3 separate regions of the Homo sapiens genome follow, and all the other regions are linked to region 3. Evidence: fine-mapped expression QTL. A gene starts in region 3. Each other region holds a variant in brackets. All regions are shown on one strand. Distances are from middle to middle.

What was found.
Region 1: its variant is fine-mapped to the expression of DEFB1 in lung (TOPMed, PIP above 0.99).
Region 2: its variant is fine-mapped to the expression of DEFB1 in lung (TOPMed, PIP 0.96).

Annotation. Positions count from the first base shown.
Region 1 is chr8:6,927,995-6,935,734 of GRCh38, forward strand. No RefSeq gene overlaps it. Among named protein-coding and RNA genes, the nearest start is that of DEFA6, 5.8 kb to the left of the region's middle. The variant T/G (reference allele first, on the strand shown) is at 4,448.
Region 2 is chr8:6,853,621-6,861,360 of GRCh38, forward strand. No RefSeq gene overlaps it. Among named protein-coding and RNA genes, the nearest start is that of DEFB1, 20 kb to the right of the region's middle. The variant C/A (reference allele first, on the strand shown) is at 3,915.
Region 3 is chr8:6,874,943-6,882,682 of GRCh38, forward strand. It overlaps DEFB1 (defensin beta 1), which reads right to left and starts at 2,994. Exons shown (of 2, transcript NM_005218.4): 1 at 2,855-2,994. The coding sequence starts at 2,915.

The sequences.
Region 1 (7,740 bases), 53 kb after region 3:
TTTGGAATTGTATGCTCTATCTTTGGAAACTAAGAAGTGTTCCCAGCCTATTTTAATTGAAATAGAAGATAATGCAGACCAATCCCCATGGGCATTGGTAAATGTTTAGACAGATGGGGTGCAGGAAGGCTTATCAGGATCCATATCGCAGCTTGTAAAGTCACCACAATCACCACGCCAACAGACGGAACGCCTGGAAGTAAACAGAACTTCTAGAACAGTAGAACATCAAAGGGTGTCAGGGACAAGGGAACTTCACGTAGTTCCTTTCCCTCTCTCTACTTACCTTCCTGCCCCTAGAGTCACATACATGCAAATACTGAAGCACAAGCTCTATTTTGAAGAGCCCATTTACTCTAGGATCCAGCTTTCAATGATCATGCACAAAATCGAGGCAGGTATATCTCCCCCTTGTTTAGCCATCAGGCTCCTGCAAGAGAAGTAACCTCCCTACCGTGACCCGCAGTCACGAGGACCTCATCTCTGTTAACTGCCTTTCTTGAGTTAACCCCACCCCACTCCCACATGGAAGCCCTAATAAGAACCGAGCATCTTGGAGATGCCACCGAGATGAAGTTGACTTAGGCCAAGGGCTGTCTCTGTTGTCCTCAGTGGCTCCAGCATACCTCCACCCTGAGATGTCCTCACACATCAGACGCTGACCTAGCAGAGCCCACACTATCTTCCAGTAAAGAAGAACCTGCCCTTACAGAGAACTGGGCGCGCAGCACTGCAGTAGCACCTTAAGGACAGCAGGTGGCCCTCCTGCCCTTAAACAGGAGTTGACCCAAGAGGGACTTCAAATGGGAGCGCTGTAAAGTGCTGTTCAGCAAACACATTGCTTTCTTCTGCACCCCAAAGTGTACATATTACAACATTAGTTCAGGGGGCACAGAATACACTGCTGCTGGTTCCGTGTCAGCGGTAGCTGCTGGCCCTGGAAGGCTGGCCTGCCCCGTCTCTAACCTAGTGTCATGATGTCGTTCCCCCTTGTGCTGGCTGCGGGGCTGAGGACCTGAGTCTGGGGGCCTCTGCTCTTTCTCCTGGGTGGCAATGCTCCTGTCCCTGCCTCCTTCCCAGTCTGTGGTGGGGACTCGACAGCCAGGGCAGGTCAGGTTCTCAGTCTGTGCTGAGGTCTCACCTGGGCCTTGCCTCTGTCTCCCCCAGGTGGCTCCCAAACCCCAATTAGAACAGAGTGAGTCTGTATCTCGTGGTCCCTTTCACCTTTCTTTCTGGGCTGCACCAGAACCTTGGCAGAAATCAGTGGTTTAAGCAAAAAATGGTGCTACATGTAAAAGTCTTTGCAACACTTTCACTTCCACCCCCACCCACCCTGCCCCCAGCACAGTGTCCTGGACTTGCCACCAGTGTCAACTCTGAGTGTAGACACAACTGAAACTGTTCCTTCATACACATGCAGTTCAGCTTTCAGACACTCAACAAGAGCCTTGACACCCTCAAGCTGGGGTAAATATCCTGGGGAAGCTACAGGTGGGGGTGCAGGTGTGGGTGTGAGAGGAGAAAGGCCTTCAGCAGCAGCAAGGATATTCCCACACTCTCTGAGGCTGTCTGGTGACCCCAGCAGACACAGTGAGTGTGGACCTTGGGCAGGGCCCTGGGACATGGTTTTGACCCAGTGTGGAAGGGCAGTTTTGGAACAGAGTGTGTGTGTTAGCGTGGGGTAGAGCGGGGGCTGCGTGGGGGTGAGCTCTGAGAACTGTCCATCTCCCAGCCCCTGAGAGTGCACCGCCCTGTCCCTCCCCTCAGCCTTTTGTCCACCTCCCTGCAGGGAGGGTCCTGGTGCTGCCTGTGCCACACAGCAACTCCCGGGCCTGCAGATCCAGCTGGGACAGGCAGGAGCTCCAAGTCCCCTGCCCTTTGTCTGCCTTTCCCAGCCGCCTCTCACATGCTGTCTATGTGTCTGGTGTTGTTGCCTGCAGCAATTTTTACAAATGACTATGAAAGAATAACTCTCTTGGGCTGTTTTAAAATGTGGTCCCAATTCTTGGACTCTTCTCCCACAGAAAGGGAGGTTTACTTCTTTCCTGTTGGATCTAGGTCGGGTGACATCTTCACCAATAGAATGCACCTGACTTAGTACCATGCCGTTTGCTGGGCCCAGGTGCTAAGACACTGGTATTTTTCACTTTCACCGTCTTGGATGGCGCTGCAGTTGGAATATTTTTGTCCCTCTGAAATTCATATATTGAAATATTAAACCACCAGGTGATAGCATTAACAGGTGGTGCCTCTGGGGAGGTGAGTAGGTCCGGAGGGCACCTCATGAATAGGATTAGTGTCCTTATAGAAGAGATCCCAAGGAGCTCCTTCATTCCTTCCATCAGGTGAGGACACAGTGAGGAGGTGCCATCTATGAACGAAAAAGCTGGTTCTCAGCAGACACCAAATCTGCTGCCACCTTGATTTGGACTTCTCAACCTCTAGAACACTGAAAAATATATCTGTTGTTCATAAGCAACTCAGTTTATGGTATTTTTTTTTAAATAGTGGCTCAAACGGACTAAGAGGGCTGGTCACTTGGGGGCCCAGACACCGTGTTTTGAGGAAGCCTCAGCCTCGCACAGGAAGATGAACTGAGGGCACCTGCGAGGGTGAGCTAGAGAACACAGAACAGCCAGCTTTCTGGGAAAAACCAAAACTCTGATTTACAGTGTTTGTAAATTTCTGTGGTTAGAATCCTCCCAGCTCTGGACCGTTTAAAAAATGTCACACAAACCACCTTTCTCATGAGCCGGCATGATCTGGCCCCAGCGCATCACAAGGTCCCATCCCTCAGCCCTGTGAGAGCTCCCAGCTGAGCCAGCACTGCCTGCCACCTGTGCGCGAGTGTCTCAGCCCTGAGCTCCTCAGATCCCAGCAGAACCTCTCCTCTGAGCCAGGCCCAAATTGCCAAGGTATGAGTGAAGACCTGATGGTGCTGTTTCAGTCCACTATGTTTGGGATATCTTTCCACACAGCAGTAGATGAACAGAGGGCATTGTCACAGTCTTGGCGAGAAGTTGGACTTGTGCATTTCTGCGTGTGTAAACTTCTGCTTCTCCAAAATATTGGCGAAGTAGGACTGAATCCTCTTACCTTATTCCCAAAGTGTCACAAAGAGCCCATGATGGTGGGAGCATGAGATTGTGGACTGTTTGGAGTGACCGAAGAACCCTCTCACCCATTCCTAGTTTAAATTCTTCCCGCTGGGAGCAGGGGTGGTGTGGGAGCCAGGTGGGGTCTCAACCTCTGCCCTCAGTAACAGACTCAGAAGAGGCCATAGGACTCAGGAGTTGGCTGAAACAACAGGGAAAGAAGTAGGGATTTTCTCTAGGAGATTAGCTGCGAAGGGCACAGAGAGATGACCATGAATGACATGGCTGTCACCTGGGGAGAGATCCCAAAGTAAGATCAAGAGAAACAAAGGGGAAAAAAGGTAAAGACGACAAAGTAACTCATGCTTTGAGTCCTTGGACCAAGCATTTCCTAAAGCCAGAATTCCTTGGTATGGGAGTGAAAATGTTGACTCAGGGCTGGACAAGGTAGCTCAGCTTGTAATCCTAGCACTTTGGGAGGCTGAGGAGGAAGAATTGCTTAAGGCCAGGAGTTTGAGACCAGCTTGAGCAACATAGCAAGCCCCCTGCCTCTTAAAAAAAAATGGTGACTCAGCTTGACCTGATTTCTAATGTTTTACTCCAAGACTCCACTAAGATGCCTGAAAAAGATCAAAAATACCAAACTCGGAGAGCCTGAGGCAAAGACAGTGCCGTGCACAAGGACAGGAGATGAGAGCAGATGACAAGTGTCCCAATGCAGCTTGAGGGCAGATGACAGGTGTCCCAAGAGCAGCTTGGGTATCAGGCTCCCTGGTGATTCCCATGCACAGCCCCCGGGAGAACAGCCTTATTGATGCTGATCAGCAGGGAAGGAGGGACGGCTACATTAGAGGCTGGAAGGACAGCGGGTGAGTCAGGGATGGGGAGCTTCATAGTTGATGTTCAGAAATGGAGGAATTCCAGGTGGTGGCAGGAGCTAGTGGGTGGCCATGGGTTGGAGGGCTGGGACAAAGAGGGAGTGGGGTCACTGTCATCCAGGCGGACAAAGCACTGAGAGGCTGGGAGGGTGACCGGCCAGGTAACATTACAGTGAAAGACCGTTTCCCGTAATCTTAAGTTTCTGAGTGAGTTGAGTGGCTTTGAGCAGCAAAAGGGAAAAATACATAGGTTTAGAAAAGAGAATAGGTAGTTGTCTGATGTCTTCCATTCTGGTTCTGCTTGTAAGAAGAGTTCAAGTTCTCAAACAGAGAAACAGAAGAGAAAAAAATGGCTGTCTTTTATTAAAAAAAAATCAGAAGGCTTTTAAGAAATGTCAAGGAAGTATTTATTGAACACTGTTGAAATAAGAGTCAAAACGCTGCAATAGGGTGAGCCGTTGAACTCAACTGTCC[T/G]GAAGCCCAAGGCAGGAATATGTAGGCCCTGGGTTAAGCTAGTGGAAAAGTTCTGGTGGTTGTTGGTGGGGAAGTTGAGCAGTGTGATTGGGCAATCTTTGTTTGCTAATTTATTAGGAGATAGGCTCCTGTCTTCCCACAGAGACAAGGCTGCTATCCCCTTGAGTAATTACATTTATAGGGATGAGGCATCTGACTTACTCTTTATTGTTCTACCACTCAAGTGATTCAAGGTAGAAAATGTCTTGTATGTCATCAGTAAACATAGAGTGCATCCACATGAACGTTTCTGGGTCTCACTTGAGGCTGAGCAACTTGCCCTGGTTGTTTGGAGACCCTCACACCTCTCCCTGCATTCTCTGTCCCCAGAGTTTGCAGCTGTCATAGCCCACCCTAGACTGCAGTAGCAGAAGCCACATGTGGTGCTCCCAGTGTGTCTATCCACACAGAGGAGCAGGGAGGCTCCTTCCTCGTCTGGCCCTTTCCTTTGGATTGATGGATGCTTCTCAGCACATCAACCTGAATTCTACTCCATCCTTCTGTGTTGCAACAGCAATTCCTCTTAATTCAATGGAGGTTGACCTCCTCCTGCATAGCTCTTGCCCTGATTCTACATTCTCTACCTAATTTTCTGCTTTAATCATTCTTTTATTCTATTGAAAGTTTAAACATCTTTATGTTTCAGTTTAAGATTCACCATGAAATCTATCCTTGGCATTCCATGACAGAATGGTCTTTTCCTACTTCCAAAAGTCCTAATGCTTCATTAAACCACATTTTACCCATCATAGTCTCCTATATTTTAGTCTTTTTAATTAGTTTTAATTAGTCTTTTTTAAGGAATGTTGTCACATGGACTAGACACACGGGCTGCTTTACCTCTGTAGGCTTCAGTATTTTTTTCGTAAACTCACATACTTTGGAGCACAGAAGTATCCCTAAGCCCATGAACGTGTTTGAATGCTTTCTCTGCATGTGAGGCTCCAACCTTTCCGGCCACAGACTGAGTTTGTGCTGAGGCATCATTAGCTGGTTTGTATTCATGCCTGGTCATGGGGAAGGCCACCTGCCTCTGATTGTGGGGGTTGCTGGTGTTTAAGCTTTAGTGCCATGGGTCCCATTCAATATCTAAGGATCGGGTTTCCTGGCTTGGATCCAGTCAGGTGGCATTTGGGGTTTTGCCCCTCTAGCACATTGCCTCAACATGCCACAGTTTTCCAGCCTGGGGTTCAATTTTGTGTCAATATAAATTTTGAGTACAATTAATTAATTTAGTTGAAATTAATTTATTGATCATGTGCAACGTATTAGGTGGTCATCTATGCACTGTGGTAAGATGATGAGGAAAACATGCAGCTTCCCTCCCAGTGTTGGGAGACAAATGTTCCAGAGAGTAAATGAAATGCACAGATGTGAGATAGCTTACAATTCTACAGTTAAAAATAAAGAGAAGAGGGGGATAGAGGTCACCAGGGGGAACTAGTTGCAATTTGAAATTAAGAAATCAGCAAAGTCCTCAGTGACAAAGGGAAGTTCTAGCAGAGACCCCAGGATCTAGGGCGCAAGCCAGGTGGACTTCTGGGAAGTGCAGAAACCGCGTGATGGAGTCAGCCGGACTCAGTGGACGGTTAGGAGCAATATGCAGAGTTACAGCAAGAACCGCGTGACTTCAAGTCAGTGGCGGTTACAGGAACCCAAGGAAGACTGTCCCCCTTTCACATCCTGAAACCCAAAATGTCACCTTCACCTTCAATACAAGGGGAAGACCTTGGACCATTTCTTTGTCAATCACAGACCCACTGTGTCTTCCCTGGGACCTGTATTGGGTTCCCCAGCTGTGAAGTGTCTCAGTGGGGTGCCTGGACCCCTGAGCTGCCTCTTCAGACAGGCAGAGCCTCAGTCTGGGGCTGAGACCTGCTCAGAATCTGCATGGGTAGATGTGGAGAACACCTGCTTCCTTCTCCTGGGCTCTGGGCATTGTGGGTGGTTGGTGTTGGTGGTCACAGCTGTGTCTTGGCCCATCAGATTGTTTTGGTCAAGAATGGGGAATAATCCTACTAGAATCACTGTCCCTTTATTTGCAAACTGTAGTTTCTCTGTCACTCTTGGAAGTTGTGGGGGCATTCTATGAATGACCCTCCAGATAAGAGGAGCCATGGCTTGAACAGAGAAGGTATTTTTCCAAGCATGTGTAGTGGATTCATAAACTGGAACTGCTAGATCCAAAATATAAGAAATCTGTGGGCCAAGCTGGACTTGTCCCTGGAGCTTTGTGATCATGTCCTCATAGGCCGTTGACAAGACATCCTCAACTATTGTTAAAGGTACAGTGGGTTTCTAGGGTAGGGACAGAGAGGAGAGACAGGAAGAGAGGTCACATCACACCCCAGCAAGATGTCAGCCTGGCCCTCAGGGACACCCGGGTTAGGCAGTGACCCTGTTCTCTTGGAGGGGAGGAGGAAGACAAGCTCAGGAAGGTACAGACCCCACGTGTGCTGTGCCTGATGGGGAGGCTGCAGTTGAAGGTAGGACAGCAGGGGACGCTGTGGCCTTTCCGGGAAATGCTCTGAGCATCTCAGAGAGCGCTCCTGGTTCATTCCCTTTCCCTAGACCTGGTTTCTTGCTCACTCACTGATGTGCAGGATGTTGTGGTTATCAGAGCCGCAGCCTGCAGCAACAACAGGAATGTAAGGTTTCTGGTGAAGCTGTATTTTCCCAGCAGAATCAGGTTCTCAGCAGCTTTAAGGCAACCCAAGAGAGTGCGCGTTGCAAAGTGTAGTGGAGCATTTGTGTGTGTGCGTTTTCTGGGTGTGAAGACGACTTTATGGGTGTGAAATCCAGGTCTTCATAGACGTGGCTGAAGGGTGCTCTTAATGAGGACATCCCATTGTGGGCTGCTGTGTTTTGTGTTCCATGCACCCCGCCTTTGCTAACAACCCATTTCCCTCTTAATTAAAGTTGTTTCAGTGGATCTCCTATAACCCTATGTCTTAAAAGGCAAATGTGTGACCTGGACATGTTCAATAAAACTCCAATATTTTGACGCAGAGGATGGTGGTTTTTCCCGAGAAGTAGTGAGGTTGTGAGTAGCTAAACTGGAAGCTGACGTTGATTCTTTTGCCTAGTATATGAGAGTTGTCTTTGAGAGTGAATCCATTCAAAATGAGGCAGAATGAAAAGACAGAGCAGTGGATGGTGAGATCAGTGGCATCATTTGTGCCTTCGTTTCAGTTTGTGTCTGAAGCCATGGCTCCTCCTTAAAAATTCTAGATTTTGAAACTTTAATTTGTTCC
Region 2 (7,740 bases), 21 kb before region 3:
TTCATCTCAGTGAGCAGAGGGGTGACTGAATAGAATGGGAGGCAGGTTGTCCCTAAGCAGTTCCCAGCCGGACCTTTCCCTTTAGCTTAGTGATTTGTTGGGGGACCCCAAGATATATTTTCCTTTTGTAGGCCCTAGATACTTCTGCTGAATTTTCCATTCTGCAGATACGGCACCTGGGTTCAATGAGGCTTCTGTCATCTCCTAGATTTGAGTTTTTGGTGTGTCAAGAGGATATGAAATTTTAGGATGCTGTGATAGAATCAGAGTTTTGCTGGCTTTAAAATATAGCACCAGAAATACAGTGAGGCCAACGGATCAGGACACGGTGCCATTGAAAAGGGAGTTTGTTAGACCCACAGATCGCAGGAGGGGCACACAGAGCAGGGGGGCCACATGGGGAAGCCTGGGGTTAGGAAGTAGATGGAGACAAAAGGAACTGTGGGCGAGAGCCTTTCTTGTGATTTCCATGGGAAGAAATGAGAAGACAGGGCAAGCAGGTTTGGGATTTGCTAGTATGAATAATTTCAGCAGTTCTGGGGCACAGAGGGTGTCCCTAGTCGTCTGGTACCTGGCCCAGGGTAGATAAGGGCTGGTGGATAGAGACCAGAGCATGAGAGCCTCCCGAAGAGGGCAACTGGGGGTGTGGACTTTTGATTGGTTGGTTTGCATTTGAAAGGGGTGCTCCTGGGAGAGTTGCCTACTATCTCTAAGAATTGGCTGACTCTGAGGGGGCAAGTCCCCAGATATCAAGGCATGAGAATTCAGACAACAAGAGATACGGCGAATCCACTGCTCCAACATGCCTTCCCTCAGCCGTGGCTTGGCAGTGGCTCTCAGCAGGTAAACTGTACTCCCTGACCCGCCGACACAGGGCCTGACAGTGTGCCTTGTGTCCACCAGCAGGAAGCAGTGGCTGCGTGCCTGTTCCAGAAAGGGCAGCATGTGTCTCAGCCCACAGCCTTCAGCCCTCAGCTCCCATGGGGAGAGCGTGTCATAGGCAGCCCCTGTTCACTGAGCATTTGTCCCCGACAGGGCCACACACAGAGCAGCCCTGAGCCCAGTCCAGAGCCGGCTGCAGAGGCCACAGAGCCAACTGTGAATGGCGACATGAATGTTTGTGACTTCCAGAATCTGAGATTTGGGGACGTTTGTTCTTGCAGCAAAAGGCGATCAGTACAGACACCTGGGATTTTGGATGTGCGGGAATCTCTAAGAGCTGCAGGGGCTTCATATCTATACTGCAGGCTTCACCTTTTCCCGCCACCTTGAAAACTGCTCTTGGTCCTATGGGACTTCCAGACTGCAGGAGGAGATCTTCGAGGCCGTCTTTGTCTTTGACCTCACACAACTCACCGAAGCAAGTTTACCTTGCCTGTTTTTACCTCCTAAATGTTTCTCGAATCTTTGTCCTCCTCTCTGTTCTTAGTATCTTAGGTCTGGCTTCCATTGTTTCTCCCAGGATCAATACAAGAGGCTCCCACATGGGCTCCCCACCTCCAGAATTGCCTTTGGACCTCACATCTGTACTCCACCCAGCTATTAAAGGGATCCCTCTAGGATTAGTGTCCTCGGGCTGCTGTAACAAAGTATGAGAAACTGGGTGGCTCAAAACCACAAAATTGTACTGCCTCACATTGTTCTGGAGGTCACAAGTCTGAAATCTGGTGTTGGCCGGGCCATGCTCCATCTCACAATGCTGAGAGAGGATCCCATCTTGCCTCTTCCAGCTTCTGTTAATGGCTGGCAATCCCTGCCTTCCCTGGCTTGTAGAGGCATCATGTCCAGTCACACGGCCCTGTATGTCTTCACGTCGTCCTCTCTCTGTATGCCCCTCTCTCTGGGTCCAATTTCTCCTTTATATAAGGACACCGGTCCTATTGGATTAGGGCCTCCCAAATGACTCCATTACAGGTTGATTATCTATGCAAAGACCCTATTGCCAAATAAAGTCACACTCTGAGTGGCTGGAGTTAGGACTTGAATGTCTCTTTTCCTGGGGACACAATTCATGCCATAGCATAATGTATCTGAATTTCATGTCTGACTGTGTCACCTCTTCAAGGACCCAAAGTTTTCTGAGGCTCCTCATCTCCCAGGCTGTGCCCCCACCAAAGGTCAGGAGCTGTCTGCTGGAGCTTTGACAGCAACAGGCAAACATGGTCTACCTTCCTGGAGCATTGTTTTTCCTCTCAGGATTCAAAAATGATTACCTTGCAATGCAATGGAATGGAATAGAATGGAAGGGACACATGCCTTTGCCTGATAAGATGCGGCTTTGAAGGTATTTTGAACATCCAGCAGGTAGCCCCTTTGGCACCAGTGGGGCTTTTGTTCTCATTTGCCCACGCAGGTGAAGCATGTTGCAGAGCATTTGAACAGCTCTCACCTACAGGAAAAGGCCCAACATTGTTAAATTGTGCAAGGTCATGCTGCACAGATTATTTAATCTTAGCTCAACTCAGCCATCAGCTCTCTTGCTAACACTTTCCAATGAGGCACCATCAAACTGTTCTTGCTCATGCCTCAGCTCCTGGACTGTTTGCTGATCCCTACTTTTCCCTTGTCCAACAGGCCTGACTCCCAGTCAGTTAAAGAACGCCTTCTCTGATCCTCTAGGTCTTTCCCACTTTGTGACAGTTACATTCCCCGTGCTTGCGAAAGACATTGATAACGTCTTTATCTTTGTATGTTCTGTATCATATTACAATTTGTAATTACCTTTGGAATGTGACAGCTCACATTAGCAGGTGAATTCTTTAAGGAAAGCAATTTTTAAAAATATTTTAAATCCTTCACGTCCTTGACATTCGGTGGAGTTCACTTCCTGGGATATACTAGACACTTAACACATGTTTGTGGAAAGCTGGTGATGTTTTACTTCCTGACACTACAATTTAAAAAATCTCTATCTCACTTTTCAAAACCTTGAAAATAATGCAAAAAACTTTGAGGCAAAAATACATTGTTTTGTACTAATATTCAGAAGACTTATGCAACTATTACGACATAATTGATTTGTTGGAATTTTTTCATTTTCAATTACAATAGCATCCATTTTTTATAATAGAAAAATTATGAATACATATACAAGGAAAATAAAAATCACAGAGAAAAATAAGCCCAGATGGATTTAGGATTTGTTTGTGAAGGCAGAAATTTAAGTTAATTTGAGTAAAGTAGTGTGCGATCATGATTACCTCAAGTAGGAAAGAATTTATTTATTTATTTATTTTTTTGGTGAGATGGAATTTCTCTCTTGTTGCCCAGGCTGGAGTGCAATGGTGCAATCTTGGGTCACCGCAACCTCTGCCTCCCAGAATCAAGCGATTCTCCTGCCTCAGCCTCCCAAGTAGCTGGGATTACAGGCATGAGCCACCACGCCCGGCTAATTTTATATTTTTAGTGGAGATGGGGTTTTACTGTATTGGTCAGACGGGCCTTGAATTCCTGACCTCAGGTGATCCACCTGCCTCGGCCTCCCAGAGTGTTGGGATTACAGAAGTGAGCCACTGCGCCTGTCTGAGGAAAGAATTTTTCTGAAGTCATGAAAACTACGAACTGATGGGAAAAAGTCTGATATGTTCTACTCCGTTAAAATCAAGAACTTCCTTTTTATGCTAAAGACACTATAATGGAAGTGAAAGCCAGTTCAAAACTGGAGGAAGATATTCTTACAAATATATTTTACAAAATGTAAGTACGTCTGAATGCAGAAATGACAGAAAGCCAGTTCACTGCAACCCTCCCCACTGGAAGCATATCTTCTGCCCAATGGTGAATTTGCTAAAAGTGGACTAATCAAATGACCGGTGTGCTGGACGTAAGAATTTTCAAAGTCCTCAGCTTCTCTGTGTCTTCACCATATCAGTTTTGTTTCTGTGATTTGTCACAAATATCTGTTTCATATTTCA[C/A]ATCCAGGTGCATCAAAAATGCTCAGTGTTGGCCAGGCGCAGTGGCTCACGCCTATAATCCCAGCACTTTGGGAGGCCGAGGTGGGCAGATCACTTGAGTTGAGGGGTTCGAGACCAGCCTGGCCAACATAGTGAAATCCCATCTCTACTAAAAACACAAAAATTAGCTGAGTGCAGTGGTGCACACCTGTAATCCCAGCTCCTTGGGAGGCTGAAACAGGAGAATTGCTTGAACCTGGAAGGCGGAGGTTGCAGTGAGCTGAGATCATGCCACTGCACTCCAGCCTGGGTGACAGAGTGAGTCTCCATTTCCAAAATATAAATAAATATAAATGCCCAGTTTTATAGATAGAGGTGTGTGAGGTTGTCCTGAGATGAAGTTTGCGATCTGCATTTTGGCAGGTTCATGCCTGCCTGGGTCCCGTGCTATTCCCACCTCTGATCTTGCTGTGGTGCCTGCCTCTACCCCTCCCATTCCACCTTCATCCCAGGGACTGCCCTACTCCCCTCCTTCCCCATCTCCAGCACCCCTTCCCCCTCCCTCATTCAGCCCTGTTTCACCCTGGTCCTTCTTTGCTCTGGAGGTTAAAAGAATCTGGTGACTTGTCTTAGGCACAATTTAAAGTTGCGGGACAATAGGTCATTGGGAAAAATGTATTCAGAGAGTTGTTTTTTTGGAAAATTAAATAATGGAAAATCAGTCATTCAGGGATTTGACTTGGAGCCCCAGGGAAGAGACCTGGAGCCCAGATTACCCAGGCTACCCTTACTGGCCACTAGAAGGCGGCCTTGAGAAAGCGAAGATTTGGACCCTGCAGAAACCAGCTCTTCTTCCACCAAACTTTCTGTAAAGAGCGGGTGCCTGAAGCCCGTGGGTTTTGCATTAAAAAATGAAATGCAAGGCCAGACGCGGTGGCTCATGCCTGTAATCCCAGCATTTTGGGAGGCTGAGGTGGGCGGATCACAGGGTCAGGAGATGAAGACCATCCTGGCCAATATGGTGAAACCCGGTCTGTACTAAAAATACAAAAGTTAGCTGGGTGTGGTGGTGCGCACCTGTAGTCCCAGCTACTTGGGAGGCTGAGGCAGAAGAATCGCTTGAACCTAGGAGGCAGAGATTACAGTGAGCCGAGATCATGCCACTGCACCCTAGCCTGGTGATAGAGCAAGACTCTGTCTCAAAAAAAAAAAAAATTGCAGATGCTCACCCAAAATTGTAGGGTGAAGTAATGTGGAATCTGAGACGTAGGACTACTTCATTTAAAAATGTCGTGTAAAAAAGAGTGGCGAAGGAGGTGGTTTTCTCTTAACAGTGCCCTGTGAAGGTTCCCTGGTGGGGGCGGTGGGTGGATGAGGGGCCCCTATAGCTACAGATGGACAGATGGACAGCACGGCAATCTCCTGCGTCATGTCCATCTTCAGAGTCTTTTCTCATTTAGTTGGTAACAGGGCTGTTCACTGGCAAGAAGGAAAAGGAAAGGGTTTTAAGAGATTCACAGAAAAACACAGGAATGATTTAATTTTGTTGAACAGATTTAGAATTCAAATTTGTTAAGAGCTTAACTTTAAAAGTTGCCGTTCAAGAGGACAGCAGGAAAAGTTAAGGATGCTCCATGCAGAGGTATAGTTTTAGTAATCTGAGAGGTCAGCCCTCAGGACCTGGGATGTCAGTGGTTCTGTTGCTTGGTTGCCCAGGGGGAATTCGTAATTCAGGATTTATGACTCTGTAGCTTAAAGGACTTTTATGGTCCTCTGTGATTGTTTTCTTTGTTCTGGCAAATACCCAATCATGATGATGCCTATAGAAAAAGAAAAGAATAATCAGTGTCAAAAAGATCAGACTAAAATTCAAGCTTTTCTTTTTTCCTTCATACTTTTTTCTTTCTTTTCCTGGCTCCCTTCTTTCTTCCCTCTTTCTTTCTCCTTCCTTCTTTTTCTTTCTGTTTTTCCTTCCATCTCTTTCTTTGCTTTCTTTTCTCTTTTCTTCTCTTTCCTTTTATTTTCTCTCCTCTTTTTTCCTTGTCAAATGACTTGATTACTTTTTCCTTACATGCTGGAACATTTTAACTAATTGCATCTAGTTTTCAATATTATATTTCTCCAAATTTCTTCATTCAAATTAAGACTTTTCAGGTTCTGTTTTTTCGTTTGTTTGTTTGGTTGGTTGGTTTTTTTTTTTTTTTAGACGGAATCTCACTCTGTTACCCAGGCTGGAGTACAATGACGGGATCCCGACTCACCACAACCTCTTTCTCCTGGGTTGAAGCAATTATCCTACCTCAGCTTCCTGAGTAGCTGGCATACAGGTGCCCACCACCATGCCCAGCTAATTTTTGTATTTGTAGTAGAGTCAAGGTTTCACTATGTTGGCCAGGCTGGTCTCAAACTCCGGACCTCAAGTGATTCTCCCTCCTCGGTCTCCCAAAGTGCTGGGGTCACAGGCGTGAGCCACCGCGCCCGGCCCAGGTTCTCTTTTGAATTCGTTCCCACTGGCCTTTGTGTTTTTAGTAAATTTGGCCCTCTCTGTCTTTGTGATGTCATCAGCCTTTGCGGACCTGCAATGTCCCACTCCTCTGCCAGTGTGGAGCCCAAATACACATCATGTCCTCTTTCTCTTTGCAAGCCTGGAGGGCATCCTTAGACTAGGCTAACTTGAGCTCAGCTCTTGTCTGGACATTGCTGACTGTGTGGAGTCTATTATTCTGAGGTGGACAGGGAGGAGCAGGGAGGGAGGGGCTGAGAGCTGAGGTTTCTGTCGGGGTGGGTGGTCTAAACACCTGCTGCTTGCATTCAAGGATCTGTTAGTTTCTGCTAGGGTCACTGTGAAAGCGGCTGGACTTAGATCATTTAGTTGACATGTTGTCCTGTAACTACCCAATGGGTTCACCCTGCCTGCTGCCTAGACAGAGCCAACTTATCAAGACAGGGGAATTGCAATGGAGAAGAAGTAATTCATGCAAAGACTGGAGTTTTGTTGTTACTGAAATCAGTCTCCCTGGCGTTTGGGATCAGAGATTTTAAGGATAATTTAGCAGGTATGGACTCAGAAAGTGGGGAGTGCTGACTGGTCAGGTTGAAGATGAAATGACAGGGGGTCAAAGTGAGTTTTTGCTGACTTCTGTTCCTGGGTGGGATCACAGAACTGGTTGAGCCAGATTTTCAGTCTGGGTGGTGTCATCTGCTGCACCGGAATATAGGATCTGCAAAATACTTCAAGCACTGATCTTAGGTTTTACTATAGTGACGTTATTCCCAGGAGCAATTGGGAGAGGTCCAGACTCTTGTAGCCAGAGGCTGCATGGTCCCTAAATCATGATATCTAACTGTGTAGCTAATTTGTTCCTACAAAGGCAGACTGGTCGCCAGGCAAGAAGGAGTTTTTCTGATATCTAATTTTGTAGCTAATTTGTTAGTCCTACGAAGGCAGACTGGTCCCCAGGCAAAAAGGGGTTTTTTTGGGGGAAAGGGCTAGTATCCATTTTGTTTCAGAGTTTAAACTATAAACTAAATTCCTTCCCAAGGCTAGCTCGGTTTAGATGGGGTGGGGGAATGAACAAAGACAGTTTAGACGTTAGAAGGAAGATGGGGGTCCGGGGGTCTGTTAGGTCTGATCTTTCACTGATATAATTTCCTCAGTTATAATTTTGCAAAGGCGGTTTCGGTCCTGCCTCTCATTACAGGGCCACTTGTTGAGTAAAAGGGTCTCAAAAGATAAAGATATTGGCTTTGATGGGGGTGATGGAGGAGAGAGGATGAGCCTGACGTCATGTCCCATGCCAGTGAGTGGGGCGTCAGGAAAAAGAAGGAGATTCTTTAACAATGGAAA
Region 3 (7,740 bases):
CTGCACTACAGCCTGGGTGACAGAGCGAGACTCAGTCTCAAAAAAAAAAAAAGTTGGTTCTGGACAATCAGATATTCATATTGGGGAAAAAAAGTAACTTGACCGTTACTTCATACCGAAGCCACACACACACACACACACACACACACACACACACACACACACACCCCATTGCCAGATGGATTGTAAGTCTAAATGTAAAAAGAAAAAGGATAAGCTTTTAGAAGACAATATTGGGGACTATCTTCATGTCTTTGATGTAAAGAAAGTCTTCTTAAACAAGATAGAAAGTGCAGTAACCTTACGGAAAAAGACATGACACATTCGACTACATTGAAATCATGATAAAAGCCTCTTTTCTAGGAAAGTTTCCATTAAGAGAGTGAAAAATCAAAACACAAAGCAAGAGAAGATATTTGTGATGTATATAATTGACAAAAGGCTTGCATAGAAAATACATAAAGAACTACAAACCAATAAGAAAAGACAGATAATCCAAAAGAAAACATGGACAAAAGACAAACAGGTATTTTACAAAAAATAACCCAGTTGCCTGTAACTATGTATAAAAGGGCCCAACTTATTATTTATCAGGGAAATGCAGATTAAAACTCCAGTGAGCTATTGCTACACTCACCAGGTGGTTAAAATTTAAAAATAATTGATGTTATCAAATGTTGGCAAGGATACAGAGCAAGAGGAACTCTTATTCACTGCTTGTGGGAGTGCAAGTTGGTGTAAATAATCTTGGAAAACAGTTTGGCATTGTCCAATACAATTGAATATATGCATAGCCTATGATCCGGTGATGCAACTTTTCAGCATGTAGAAATAGAGGCATAAGGGCACCTACTGGCCAATAGAAATGTGTGCACAAACCAAGCTGTACTATTCAACCTGAATATTAATTAGTGTGGCAAAAGTGTAAAGAATATGAAAAGTTACCACCATAAAAGTCAAGTGAGTGATTATTCTTGGGGGTAGGAGGGAGTTGTGACTGGGAAGGCTCGAGAATAGCTTCTCATAATTCAATTTAGATATAATAGACTGAAAACAAAAATTCTTTATGTTAACAAAGTGCCTTTCAAACCCTTTTGAGTTTGGACTGAACCACCATCAGAAAGAAATTTCTCACTGCTACTCAGTAAAAACATATGCACACACCCCAAACTGAAATATGGGTGTAATTAAATAGCATCTACTTTTACTACATGGCATGAAGTAATATTTTCTATTCCTTTAAAAAAACATGGGCTGGGCGTGGTGGCTCATGGCTGTAATCCCAGCACTTTGGGAGGCGGAGGCAGGCGGACCATGAGGTCAGGAGTTAAAGACCAGCATGACCAGCATGGTGAAACCCCGTCTGTACTAAAAAATACAAAAATTAGCCAGGCTTGGTGGCATGCACCTGTAATCCCAGCTAACTCAGGAGGCTGAGGCAGGAGAATTGCTTGAACCCAGGAGGTGGAGGTTGCAGTGAGCTGAGATTGTGCCATTGCACTCCAGCCTGGGTGACAGAGCAAGACTCCATCTCAAAAAAACAAAACAAAACAAAACAAAAAAACACGGTAGGCTGAGTGGAGTGGCTCATGCCTATAATCCCAGAACTTTGGGAGTCTGAACTAGGAGGGTTGCTTGTGCCCAGGAGTTTGAGACCAGCCTGGTCAACACAGTAAGACCTTATCTCTACGAAAAAATAAAAATAAAAAAATTAGCCAGGTGTGGTGGTGCATGCCTGTAGTCACAGTTTCTTGGGAGGCTGAGGTGGGAGGATGGCCTGAGCTCAGGAGGCAGAGGCTGCAGTGAGGCGAGATCACACCACTGCACTTTAGCCTGGGTGACAGAGTGAGACCCTGTCTCAAAAAAAAAGCAAAGCAAAAACAAAAACCAAAAACCAAAAACCAAAAAAAAAAACAAAAAAACAAAATCCATTGTAGCAACTGGCAGCATGAAAAGTTCTGCATTTAGAATGCTTTTGTACTCAGCTTTCAGATGGAAAAACTGAGGCATAATTGGAATAAATTAAGCCTATCTGCTGGATACAGTGATGGCCTAGAGAAACTTACAATAGGATCTTACAGAGACTTTCTGAACTGGAGTGCTTGCTTTCAGGATCATCCTTCCCAGCCCCTCATTCTGCAGATGAATAAACCAAGGCTTAGCACCATGTGACTCGTGTGAACAAGGATAGGGCTGGGATAAAACATGTTCCCGATTCCTCCTGCACGTCCCACCATCATGTCAGGGTCATGGCTGCTTTGGCCCAGAGAAGCTGACATACACCTGGCTCACAGGAAGCCCCCTCCTATTGACTGGGGAGACTGCTAACCTGGAGAATGTGGATGCATTTCTCAGGAGAGGGAGAGGACCGCCTGCCTGCACAGGAGGTGAGTCCAAGGCACCGGCTGAGCTGGCCTGATGGGTGGGGCGGCAGCACCTCACCTGTACCAGGGCACCCCAGGAGGCTGCACCCAGTGACGTGGGCTGAGGATGGGGCCGGCCCCTCTCTCTGCATAGGAAGCTGGCCTCTCAGTGTGAGGAGTCGTCTTGCAGGGGAAGCAGCAATCTCATCCACATAGGATACTGTCTACATGTCCAGGACAAGGATGCAGGCAGCTGCCTGTGACAAGCGCCATGACCCTGCCAGGCTCACTCCTTGGCGGCTCACAGACCCTGAAGGCTTGGCAGGGCTTGCCTGCTGCCTTCTGCCAACTGCAGGCCACTCAACCACGGGATGCTTTCCTGCTGCTTGTTCCTCGTCCCTTGGGACACGGAGGCAGCCATCCGAGACTCACATCAGCCCCATTGTCCCCAGCCCTGGGGATGGGAAACTCTTGCAGGTACCAGAGCTTACCTGAGGCCATCTCAGACAAAAGTAAGCAGAGAGTAAACAGCAGAAGGTAGGAAGTTCTCATGGCGACTGGCAGGCAACACCCAGGATTTCAGGAACTGGGGAGACGCTGGCTCCTTTGGAGGCTGAGCTGACAGAGGCTTCCAGAGGCTGGAGCGTCACTGTATTTATAAGACTGGTGGATTGCACAACCTCGTCGACGGAACTGAAGGGAGGTGCCACAGTCAAGGGTGAACTTCTAATCGCTAACCCCTGGTGTCATTTGCCCTGAGCAGTCAGCAGTCACATGGCACATTGTCTCCATCTGGCTGCCGCTGGATTTAGCTTTCAGCCTGGAGCCCTGGTGCCAGCTCCTCCTGTTTGGTTTTCTAGGTTAGGCAGTTCTGATGGGGTTTCTGGAACAGGCAGTTCACACTGGAGTCCCTCCTTCTGGATCACATGGAGGAGAGCCACAGGGAAGCTCTGAGCAGGGGGCCGCTCGGCTCTAAGCTGGTGTTGGCCTCTTTAGTTTGATTGTCTTCCTGCAAGACAAACTCAAACTTCACCCTCTTCCCTTGCAGAAGGAGAGCTGGTTGTAATGAAGTTTCTTCCTCTGGCCAAGGCTACCTTCTCATCTCTCCCCTTATGCAGAACACTCTCCTCGATGGACCAACTTTTCTCTTTTCCCACTAGACGTGTTCCTGGGACGTTTCCAAAGGGCACTCCTCAGAAAGTGAGCCCCCAGTGTGGCCCTTGGAGGGTGAGGGTCTGGGCCAGCCTGGGCCCACCCTGCAGAGCTACAACTGCCAGATTGGGGTGCTGTTAGCGACTCTCCAAGTATCCCTCAGGTTTTCCTTGATTCTAAAGATTTAAGAAACATTTTATTTATTACTGATTTTCATTGTAATTCTGTGAGCAGCTTTCCTGATGTCTCAGTGGCTTATTTGCAAGCAGCAGACGCTGGCTCTCGCTGACCAAGGAAGGGAAGAGTTTATTCGGAGGATATCAGGGTTGGTGGGGGGTGGTGGCATTGCTGGAGAACCCAGCTTGAGGCTCAGTTTCCAGGAATGACATCCACCCTACACTGTCACGGTGGTCCAATGAGAACCCCATACTGCAGCCACATGGCATGAGACACCCAGAGTGGAGTGACCCTCAGCCACTCTACCGCTGGCAGAATGCCATTCTGCACCCAAACATGAACCTGCCGTATACTCCCACTTCAACCCTGCCAGAGAAAGACAGAGAGAGATCCAGAAAGATGGACAAACAAAAACAGAGACAGAGGAAGAGACAGAGACATGCAGAGAGACAGTAGAGAGACACAGAGAAACAGAGAGATAGAAACAGACAGAGAGAGATGGAAATAGAGAGAGAGAGAGAGATAGAGAGAAATAGATTCAGAGAGACAGAAAGAAGGAGACAGAAAGATGCAGTGGGATCCTGTAGCTAGCTCATTGAGGCAGTTCACAAAGGGTGTTTGGGAGAAAACTTGGAAGAGGCTGAGCCATGCCTGACCTAGGAGCAGTGAGATTGTGGAAAGAGAAAAGAAAGAACCGAAACACAGCTTTCCTTGCTGGTGCTGGGTAAGACATGGCTCAGCCTCTTCCAAGTTCCTCCCAAACACCGTCTGTGAACTGCCTCAATGAGCTAGCTACAGTATTCTATCGGATCTGTTTCTGTCCCTTTCCTTCTGTCTTATTGAAGCCACACTATGATTCTTTGACCAGGCAATATAATCCTCATGTTAGAGAAGAAAAACACTGGGGTTCAGAGAATTGAAACAAATTGCCCAAGGTCACCCTGCTGGTAAATGGAAAACTGGTGTAATGGCCTGGAAAGCCTCATTCCCTAGCCTCTGTGCTGACCGCCTCCTGGGGAGGCTTCCAGGTTATTACACCAGGTGTGGGTTCAATAAGATTGTGAAAGAAAAATATCTCAGGCACCTTCAAGCTGGGAACTGCTTATTGCGAATCTGCCTCTTTTTCTATTCAAGTCATCTTTTTGCTCCCAGAGATACATGCGTATTTCGATTAACTTTTTTGGAAAGACTTATAATAAATTCAAAAGAATGCAACCGGTCAGGGCGCAGTGGCTCACGTCTGTAATCCTAACACTCTGGGAGGCCGAGGCGGGCAGATCGCCTGAGGTTAGGAGTTCGAGACCAGCCTGGCCAACATGGTGAAGCCCCGTCCTTACTAAAAATACAAAAATTAGCTGGGTGTGGTGGCACACACCTGTAATCCCACCTACTCAAAAGGCGGAGGCCGGAGAATTGCTTGAAACCAGGACACATTGGTTGTAGTGAGCCGAGATCGCACCACTGCACTTCAACCTGGGTGACAAAACCGCACTCCGTCTCAAAAATACAATAAAAAGAATGCAACTGTCTGTCTCTCACATACCTGTGACCTGGAAGCCCCCAGTGGTGGGGGCCTTGCTTTGAGCTGTCTCTGCCTTTCTGGACAGAACTATTGTACTTCTTATACATTGATTGATGTCTCATGTCTCCCTAAAATGTATAAAAGCAAGCTGTGCCTTGACCACCTGGAGCACATGTTGTTAGGATTTCCTGAGGCTATGTCAGAGGTACATCCTCAACCTTGGCAAAATAAACTTTTTAAATTAAATGAGACCTGTCTCAAATTTTGGGGGTTTACAAGATAATAAAGTAAAAAATCTCAGAATGCTGCCGGGCACCATGTGAGGTCCGATGGTGTCTGTAGATCCTGGGAGTGAAAGGAATCTAAACCCTGGAATCCTGATTTTCAGGACTGATGTTTTCTGCTCTGAACCTGGAAAACTTTTTTTCTAAATTTTATTTTTATTTTTTATTTATTTTATTTATTTTTTTATTATACTTGAAGTTCTAGGGTACATGTGCACAACGTACAGGTTTGTTACATATTTATACATGTGCTGTGTTGGTTTGCTGCACCCATTAGCTCATCATTTACATTAGGTATTTCTCCTAATGCTATCTGTCTCCCCTCCCCCTACCCCACAACAGGCCCCGGTGTGTGATGTTACCCACCCTATGTCCATGTGTTCTCATTGTTCAATTCACACCTATGAGTGAGAACATGCGGTGTTTGGTTTTTTGTCCTTGTGATAGTTTGCTCAGAATGGTGGTTTCCAGCTTCATCCATGTTGCTGCAAAGGACATGAGCTCATCCTTTTTCATGGCTGCATAGTAGTCCATGGTGTATATGTGTCACATTTTTCTTAATCCAGTCTATCATTGATGGACATTTGGGTTGGTTCCAAGTCTTTGCAATTGTGAAAGTGCTGCAGTAACATACGTGTGCATGTGTCTTTATAGCAGCATGATTTATAGTCCTTTGGGTATATACCCAGTAATGGGATGGCTGGGTCAAATGGCATTTCTAGTTCTAGATCCCTGAGGAATCGCCACACCGACTTCCACAATGGTTGAACTAGTTTACAGTCCCACCAACAGTGTAAAAGTGTTCCTATTTCCTCACATCCTCTCCAGCACCTGCTGTTTCCTGACTTTTTAATGATCGCCATTCTAACTGGTGGGAGATGGTATCTCATTGTGGTTTTGATTTGCATTCCTCTGATGGCCAGGGATGATGAGCATTTTTTCATGTGTCTCTTGGCTGCATACATGTCTTCTTTTGAGAAGAAACACTTTGCTTTTTAAGGTTACATTTTCAGGATTTCAAGCATCCTGTGAGGGTGCTAGAAGAAGGTCATTTTAGTCCCAGTGTCCAGGGCATCACCCTGTTCCGCTCACGTCCATCAACAGGGTGATGCTGGAGAGCAGAGCTCACTCCTGGGCGCTCTTGAGGAGTGAGGCGTGGTAGCCAGCTCGGAAGGCATGGGAGCCCGGGCGAGATGATAAGGAGGCCAGGTCCTGTGCCATGTGCCCAGGAGAAACCACATACAAGCAGAATGCAGCATCTACTTTCACATAAATATTGCAGTGAGACTGGCCAGAGTCCTGGCTTCATCACTCACAATTGACCAAAGTGTGGCCTTTGTGGGTGGGCGCTGACTAAGGAGACTGATGGGGGCTGTGGTGGCAGAAAGTGCACAAGCCTTTGACAGCCCAGGGATGAGGCTACTGACCCACCTGTGATGAATGACAGTCTAATGGAGGAAATGACACCCGGGATGAGGTTGTAGAGCAGATGGGGGCCAAGTAGATGAAAGTGTGGTGGGAGGACCACGGACATCTCAGGAGAGCAGGGACCAAGGCCTATATAGGAGATGCATGCGTGTGTGTGTGGTGCATTAAGGCTTATGTGTGGTTTGCATTTAGGCTCATATCTTTGTGTGCGTGTGGTGCACATTTAGGCTTTTCCGTGTGTGCATTTAGGCTTGTGTGTGTGTCTGCCTGTATTTGGGATTGTGTGTTTGTGTGTGTGCATTTAGATTTGTGTGTGTGCATTTAGGCGTGTGTGTGTGCATGTACGTGCATTTAGGCTTGTGTGTGCGTGTATTTAGGCTTTTGTGTGTTTGCATTTTGGCTTGTGTGTTTGTGTGTGTGTCCATTTAGGCTTTTGTGTGTGTGCATTTAGATTTGTGTGTGTGTGCATTTTGGCTTGTGTGTGTGTACGTGCATTTAGGCTTGCGTGTGTGTGTGTATGTGTGCATTTTGGCTTGCGTGTTTGTGTGTGTATTTACGCTGTGGTGTGTGCGTGCATTTAGGCTTGTGTGTGTGTGGAGGGTGCACATTTAGGCTTCTGAGTGTCTTATTGAGCAGCTTTGGTTTTCTTCTTAGGCAATAGGGAGACTTTGGAAGAGGAATTACATGAGCCTGTTGCCATTATAGAACTAGTCTAATATGGAGGTGTCGAGGATGCATGGAGAGGGCGTCAGCTTGGACTTGGGAAGACCCAGGAAGGGGCTGAGGAGCCATTAGGGTCTCACACAATATGGGG